2 linked regions of the Homo sapiens genome follow. The protein of the gene in region 1 interacts with the protein of each later gene in a pairwise test. Each region holds a gene or a part of one and is shown on either strand. Other genes may lie near its edges. The genes, in order: ASRGL1 and TAB1.

Region 1 (2,557 bases):
CATAGAACAAGGTACACAGACCACAGGACAAGTAAAATAATTTGTGAAGATAAGTGCATAGAAGGTATTTGATAAGTAAGCGCATGGAGAAGTGTAGGAAACCCTTTCCTGTTGGCTACAGATGTTGCTTTCAGGCCGTTAACACCTTGTTTTGACTCTCCGCCTTCCCTTAGGTCTGGAATGGTAGAGCATTGAGTACTGTTATCTTCCACATCTCAGGAGAAGGGGGCAGTAGAGAGACATTGAGCCTGGATGTGGGAGGGAAGACCCCTCTGCTCAGGCTGATGCTAGGGCGCTGTCTCAGGGCAAGGAGGTGAGGACCCTCCTTTTAAGCATTCAGGCGTTCATTTACCAAAAATCCTTGCTAGCTCACTTTGGCATTTCAAATGGCAAGTGATTTTCCCATGAGATTCCTTTCAGTAATGTGTGTTGTTTCTCAACCCTTCCTTGTTTTCAGGAAAGACGGTAGAAGAGGCTGCGGACCTATCGTTGGGTTATATGAAGTCAAGGGTTAAAGGTTTAGGTGGCCTCATCGTGGTTAGCAAAACAGGAGACTGGGTGGCAAAGTGGACCTCCACCTCCATGCCCTGGGCAGCCGCCAAGGACGGCAAGCTGCACTTCGGAATTGATCCTGACGATACTACTATCACCGACCTTCCCTAAGCCGCTGGAAGATTGTATTCCAGATGCTAGCTTAGAGGTCAAGTACAGTCTCCTCATGAGACATAGCCTAATCAATTAGATCTAGAATTGGAAAAATTGTCCCGTCTGTCACTTGTTTTGTTGCCTTAATAAGCATCTGAATGTTTGGTTGTGGGGCGGGTTCTGAAGCGATGAGAGAAATGCCCGTATTAGGAGGATTACTTGAGCCCAGGAGGTCAAAGCTGAGGTGAGCCATGATTACTCCACTGCACTCCAGCCTGGGCAACAGAGCCAGGCCCTGTATCAAAAAAAAAAAAAAAAAGAAAAGGGAAAAAAGAAAGAAAGCAGCAGCATGATCCTGACATGACAGATGTGGGAGACCCACAGCCTGCAGACACTGTGGGCTGGAAGGTGGGAAGGGAGGGGCCGGTGGAGGTGGAGCTGTTTGAAAGTGACACAGCAGCAGTAGAAGCAGTGGTGGGCGAAGCCCAGGTGACCCTCAGAACGTTGCACAAGAACATCAGGGAAAAGAACCAGAATCCTTTAAGGAAAATGTTCTTCATGTATGAGAGACTAAAGTGATTTTTCTAAGAAAGTTCAGCCCTTCTCTGACTTACCTGGACATTTCTAGATACTTCCAAAGGACCCTCTGGGAATCCATAGCTTCCTAATCTGGAGATGGGAGGTCATAAGGGAGACGCTGTGGGGTTCCTTGAAGTTTCTTGGGTTCACAGAGGAGCCCCCTCACTTGGTGTTCTCCCGTGAGCCAGCCTCCACCTGCCAAAGACACTCTGGTCCTCGTATAGTGAGTAATGGGGCTCAGGGCCTCTCCAACAACAGAGAGGAGCTGATGCTGTAGGGCTGACCCCGTGACTTCCTGAGTCCTCACCCTGTCCAGTGCTTTGAGATTCTTCCCACCTCCCCATCCTCACCAGCCGGATCGGGCGCTGTGCAGTGTGGTCAGCATGGTGAAGAAAGTCATTTCCTCGGTGGGCAGTATTCCTCTTTATCTCTCATTACACTGGAAATGTTATTTCTGCTGTATCATCCGTGCTCAACGTTTTAGTCTGTCAGGCTCACCTTCTCTCTGGAAAGAATTTGCTTAACTTGACATTCCATGTGCCGCTAATAAAATATATTTTGAAAGAATAAGGGTGTGGTTGGGAGTCACTGTTGACAAAGACCAGAATGTACACGAGCTCCCCCCTTGGTCTCAGGTGTACTACAGAGACCTCGAGATGAGGATGGTGTGGAGGGTGATATGTGCCACCTTGTGGAGTACTCGTGAGTTTTTCAGAAGAACTGAACTTTTTCTGAGTGGGTCAAGGAAGAAGCCAAACCATGATAGGGTTTATGGCGCAGTCTTCCTGCAGTTTGCCAGCATTCACCCCAGACAGAGGTGCACAGTAAAAACCTCAACATGCAACAACTCCCCCTTTAGAAACAAGTATTTTATTAGGAGGTGTATTAGTTGAAGATTGCCACAACACGATTCCACAGACTAAGTGACTTAACCAACAGAAATTTATTAATATTTTCTCAGCTCTGGAGGCTAAAAGTCCAAGATCAAGGTGTCGGCCACGTTGGTGTCTCCCGAGGCCTCTCTCCATGGCTTGTGTAATAGCTGGCCATCTTCTCACTGTGTCCTCACATGGTCTTTCCTCTGTACGTGCACAGCCCTGCCATCTGTCTCTATATGTCCTAATCCCCTCTTCTTATGAGGACACCATATTAGATATAATTTATATATTATAATATATAAATTATATAATATATAAGTTACAATATATCTAATATGGTATATTTATTATATATTATAATTTATACAATATATAATATATATTATAATTTACATATATATTATATATAATAAAATATATAACATTTATATAATACATATATATTATATATCATA
Region 2 (3,824 bases), on another chromosome or scaffold:
CATTGTAAGTAATGTATAGTGTTTTATAGTGTACATTGTAACTAATGTATAGTGTTTTATAGTGTACATTGTAACTAATGTATAGTGTTTTATAGTGTACATTGTAACTAATGTATAGTGTTTTATAGTGTACATTGTAACTAATGTATAGTGTTTTATAGTGTACGTTGTAACTAATGTATAGTGTTTTATAGTGTACATTGTAACTAATGTATAGTGTTTTATCCCTAGCACCACTGCCATCCTCCCGCCTTGAGTCTCTAAAGTTCCATTATATCACTCTGTATGCCTGTGCATTCCCATCATTTAGCTCCCACTTACGAGTGAGAACATAGTTTGTGGTTTTCCACTCCTGTGTTACTTAGAATAATGGCCTTCATCTCCATCCAAGTTGCTGCAAAAGACATTCATTCTTTCCTTTTACTGGCTGAGTAGTATTCCATAGTTTATAGATACATTTTCTTTATCTGCTCATTAGTCAATGGCCACTTAGGCTGGTTCCACATCTTTGCAATTGTGAATTGTGCTGCTATAAACATACGTGTGCAAGTATCTTTTTCATATAATGACTTATTTTCCTTTAGGTAGATGCCCAGACTGCTGGATTGAATGCAGATCTACTTCGAAAAAGTCTCAAGTGCCTAACTATCCCCTGTTCCCTGTGTTCTGATTTCTTTTTTTTTTTTTTTTTTTTTTTTGAGATGGAGTCTTGCTCTGTTGGCCAAGCTGGAGTGCAGTGGTGCAATCTCGGCTCACTGTAACCTCCACCTCCCGGGTTCAAGTCATTCTTCTGCCTCAGCCTCCTGAGTAGCTGGGACTACAGGCATGTGCCACCACCACACCCGGCTAATTTTTGTATTTTTAGTAGAGATGGGGTTTTGCCTTTTTGGCCAGGCTTATCTTGAACTCGTAACCTCAGATGATCCACCTGCCTTGGCCTCCCAAAGTTCTGGGATTATAGACATGAGCCACTGCGCCCAGCCTGTGTTCTGATTTCTTTACCTGTTATATAAGCTTACCATTCCTTCCAGTAGCCTTATAACATAGAGGGACAGGGGCTTATTTCCAGGTAGAGTAGGGAATTTGGGGTCCACGGAGTTCAGGTTCTTGCCAGAAGTGACGTTGCTGCTTAGTGTTGAAACTGAGCCCACCAGGACCAGGTGCAGGTCATTTCCTATTACCTGTCCCTGCCCTCCTGCCCCGCCCAAAAGAAACTTTATGATGGTGAGAAAGTGATACATATTCAGTGGGAACTGTGCTCCCATACCCCTACAACCATTCTGTTTTTCACTGTCAAAACAGTACTCAATAAATTACATGAGATTCGGCTGGGCGTGGTGGCTCACGCCTGTAATCCCAGCACTTTGGGAGGCTGAGGCGGGAAGATCACTTTAGGTCAGGAGATCGAGACCATCCTGGCTAATACGGTGAAACCCCATCTCTACTAAAAATACAAAAAAAAAAAAAAATTATCTGGTGCATAGTGACGCACGCCTGTAATCCTAGCTACTCGGGAGGCTGAGGCGGGAGAATTCTTGAACCTGGGAGATGGAACTTGCAGTGAGCTGAGATCACAGCACTGCACTCCAGCCTGGTCAACACAGTGAGACTCTGTCTCAAAAAAAAAAAAATTACATGGGATTCAACATTTTCTTATATAATAATGAAAATAGGCTTTGTGCTAGATGATTTTGCCCAGCCGTAGGCTAATAGAAGTGTTCTGAGCACATTTAAGGTAGGCTAGGCTAAGTGATGATGTTCAGTAGATTAGGTGCATTAAATGCTTTTTCTTTTCTTTTTTTTTTTTTGAGATGGAGTCTCGCTCTGTCACCCAGGCTGGAGTGCAGTGGCTCGATCTGGGCTTACTGATCACCTCCCGGGTTCACGCCATTCTGCCTCAGCCTCCCGAGTAGCTGGGACTACAGGCACCCGCCACCACGCCCGGCTAATTTTTTGTATTTTTAGTAGAGATGGGGTTTCACCGTATTAGCCAGGATGGTCTCGATCTCCTGACCTCATGATCGGCCTGCCTCAGAATCCCAAAGTGCTGAGATTACAGGTGTGAGCCACCACGCCCGGCCAAATGCTTTTTCAACTTACGATATTTTCTTTTTTTTTTTTTTTTTGAGACAGAGTCTTGCCCTGTTGGCCAGGCTGGTCTCGGCTCCCTGCAACCTCCGTCTCCTGGGCTCAAGCAATTCTCCTGCCTCAGCCTCTCAAGTTGCTGGGATTACAGGCATGTGCCACCATGCCCAGCTAATTTTTGTATTTTTAAGTAGAGACGGGGTTTCAACATGTTGGCCAAGCTGGTCTCGATCTCCTGACCTCTGGCAGTCCTCCCACCTCAGCCTCCCAAAGTGCTGGGATTACAGGCGCAAGCCACTGTGCCCGGTCAACTTATGATATTTTCAACTTACAGTGGGTTTGTCAGGACATAGTCCCATCCTAAATTGAGGAACATCTGTATACTAGACAGGGACTTCTCTGAGGTCAGGGACCCTGTTTTCATTCTGTATCCCCAGTTCCTGACAAAATCCTAGCATGTATAACATCGCCTACAACAAGTTTGTTCCAGGAAAGAGTGTTTCATAATAATGACACTTGCTACTAGGCTTTTTAGTGGCTGGCAGAGTGCTCTCACACCACTGTTAGTTAATACTCGTATTCACCCAGTCAAATGGATGTTCTCCCCATCCTAGAGGTGTGCACCCAACAATTAGAGCAATCACAAGAGCACACACTTCCTAATGAGAAAGTTCCAGAAGGATTATCCTGAATACCTTGAAAGGCTCAGATTGCAAACTTGGCTGGCAGGCATTTCCTTCACCTGCTGGGCTGTTGACCACTGAATCTCCTGATTTTAGGCTCCAAGATTATGGCCCATGCCCCCCAGGCCGCACCTCGTTCCTTACCAGGTTCTTCCTACCCCCTCCCCCAGGAGATTGCTGCGATGATTGACACTGAGTTTGCCAAGCAGACCTCCCTGGACGCAGTGGCCCAGGCCGTCGTGGACCGGGTGAAGCGCATCCACAGCGACACCTTCGCCAGTGGTGGGGAGCGTGCCAGGTTCTGCCCCCGGCACGAGGACATGACCCTGCTAGTGAGGAACTTTGGCTACCCGCTGGGCGAAATGAGCCAGCCCACACCGAGCCCAGCCCCAGGTACGTGTGCTGTGCAGACAGGCAGTGCCTGGGGATGCCATCTGGGGGCCAGAGGTGGGTGCAGAGCCCCCGAGGCTGCTTGAAACGGAGATGGAGTCAGGAGGCCTGGCTCTGAGTGGCTCTAATTCAGGTTCTCTGATTTTTAGCCTCTCTGAGCTGAGTGTTGATTTTTGCTCTTTTGTCTGTAAAATGAGGTTAATACCACCTGCCCCGGCAACCTCCCAGAACCTGAGTGCCCCAGCAAGCAATTCACAGAGCCCTGAAGCCACATAATAGAGATGATGGCCACCACTGATTGAGTGCCTCCCTTGTGCCAGGCACACAGCCTGCCTTATTCCCTTCAGTCCTCATGGGCAACCCTAAAGACAGGTGGTACCCCTGTTTTCCAGAGAGGGAAACTGAGGCTGAAGAATGAAGGGACCTGGAAGAGATTAGGCATGTGGACAGATGGTCAGGCCCCAAGGCCTGTCTGTCCCTGGGCTGCACTGGAGCAGGGCAGGGAGAAGGACGTTTTGCTTTTTACCTATGTCATTCTTCAACCAAGTTCTCAGGAAAAGAGGTGGCTGCTCTTTCCCGTGCTCCCCCCAGTGCTGCTCAGCACTAAGACCTTCGGTTCCTGAGGGCTGCATTTCTTTTTCTTTGCTTTAAACAAGCAAATCTTAG

What was found.
Region 2: the proteins of ASRGL1 (region 1) and TAB1 interact in a two-hybrid assay, tested with the Homo sapiens proteins (one large-scale study listed by BioGRID and IntAct).

Annotation. Positions count from the first base shown.
Region 1 is NC_000011.10:62,391,622-62,394,178, forward strand, and holds the end of ASRGL1 (isoaspartyl peptidase/L-asparaginase), read left to right. Parts: coding exon 1-11; exon of another isoform or gene 12-12; intron 13-457; coding exon 458-663; 3' UTR 664-1,791; downstream 1,792-2,557. UniProt on the Homo sapiens protein: Has both L-asparaginase and beta-aspartyl peptidase activity. May be involved in the production of L-aspartate, which can act as an excitatory neurotransmitter in some brain regions. Is highly active with L-Asp beta-methyl ester.
Region 2 is NC_000022.11:39,423,765-39,427,588, forward strand, and holds part of TAB1 (TGF-beta-activated kinase 1 and MAP3K7-binding protein 1), read left to right. Parts: intron 1-2,938; coding exon 2,939-3,161; intron 3,162-3,824. UniProt on the Homo sapiens protein: Key adapter protein that plays an essential role in JNK and NF-kappa-B activation and proinflammatory cytokines production in response to stimulation with TLRs and cytokines.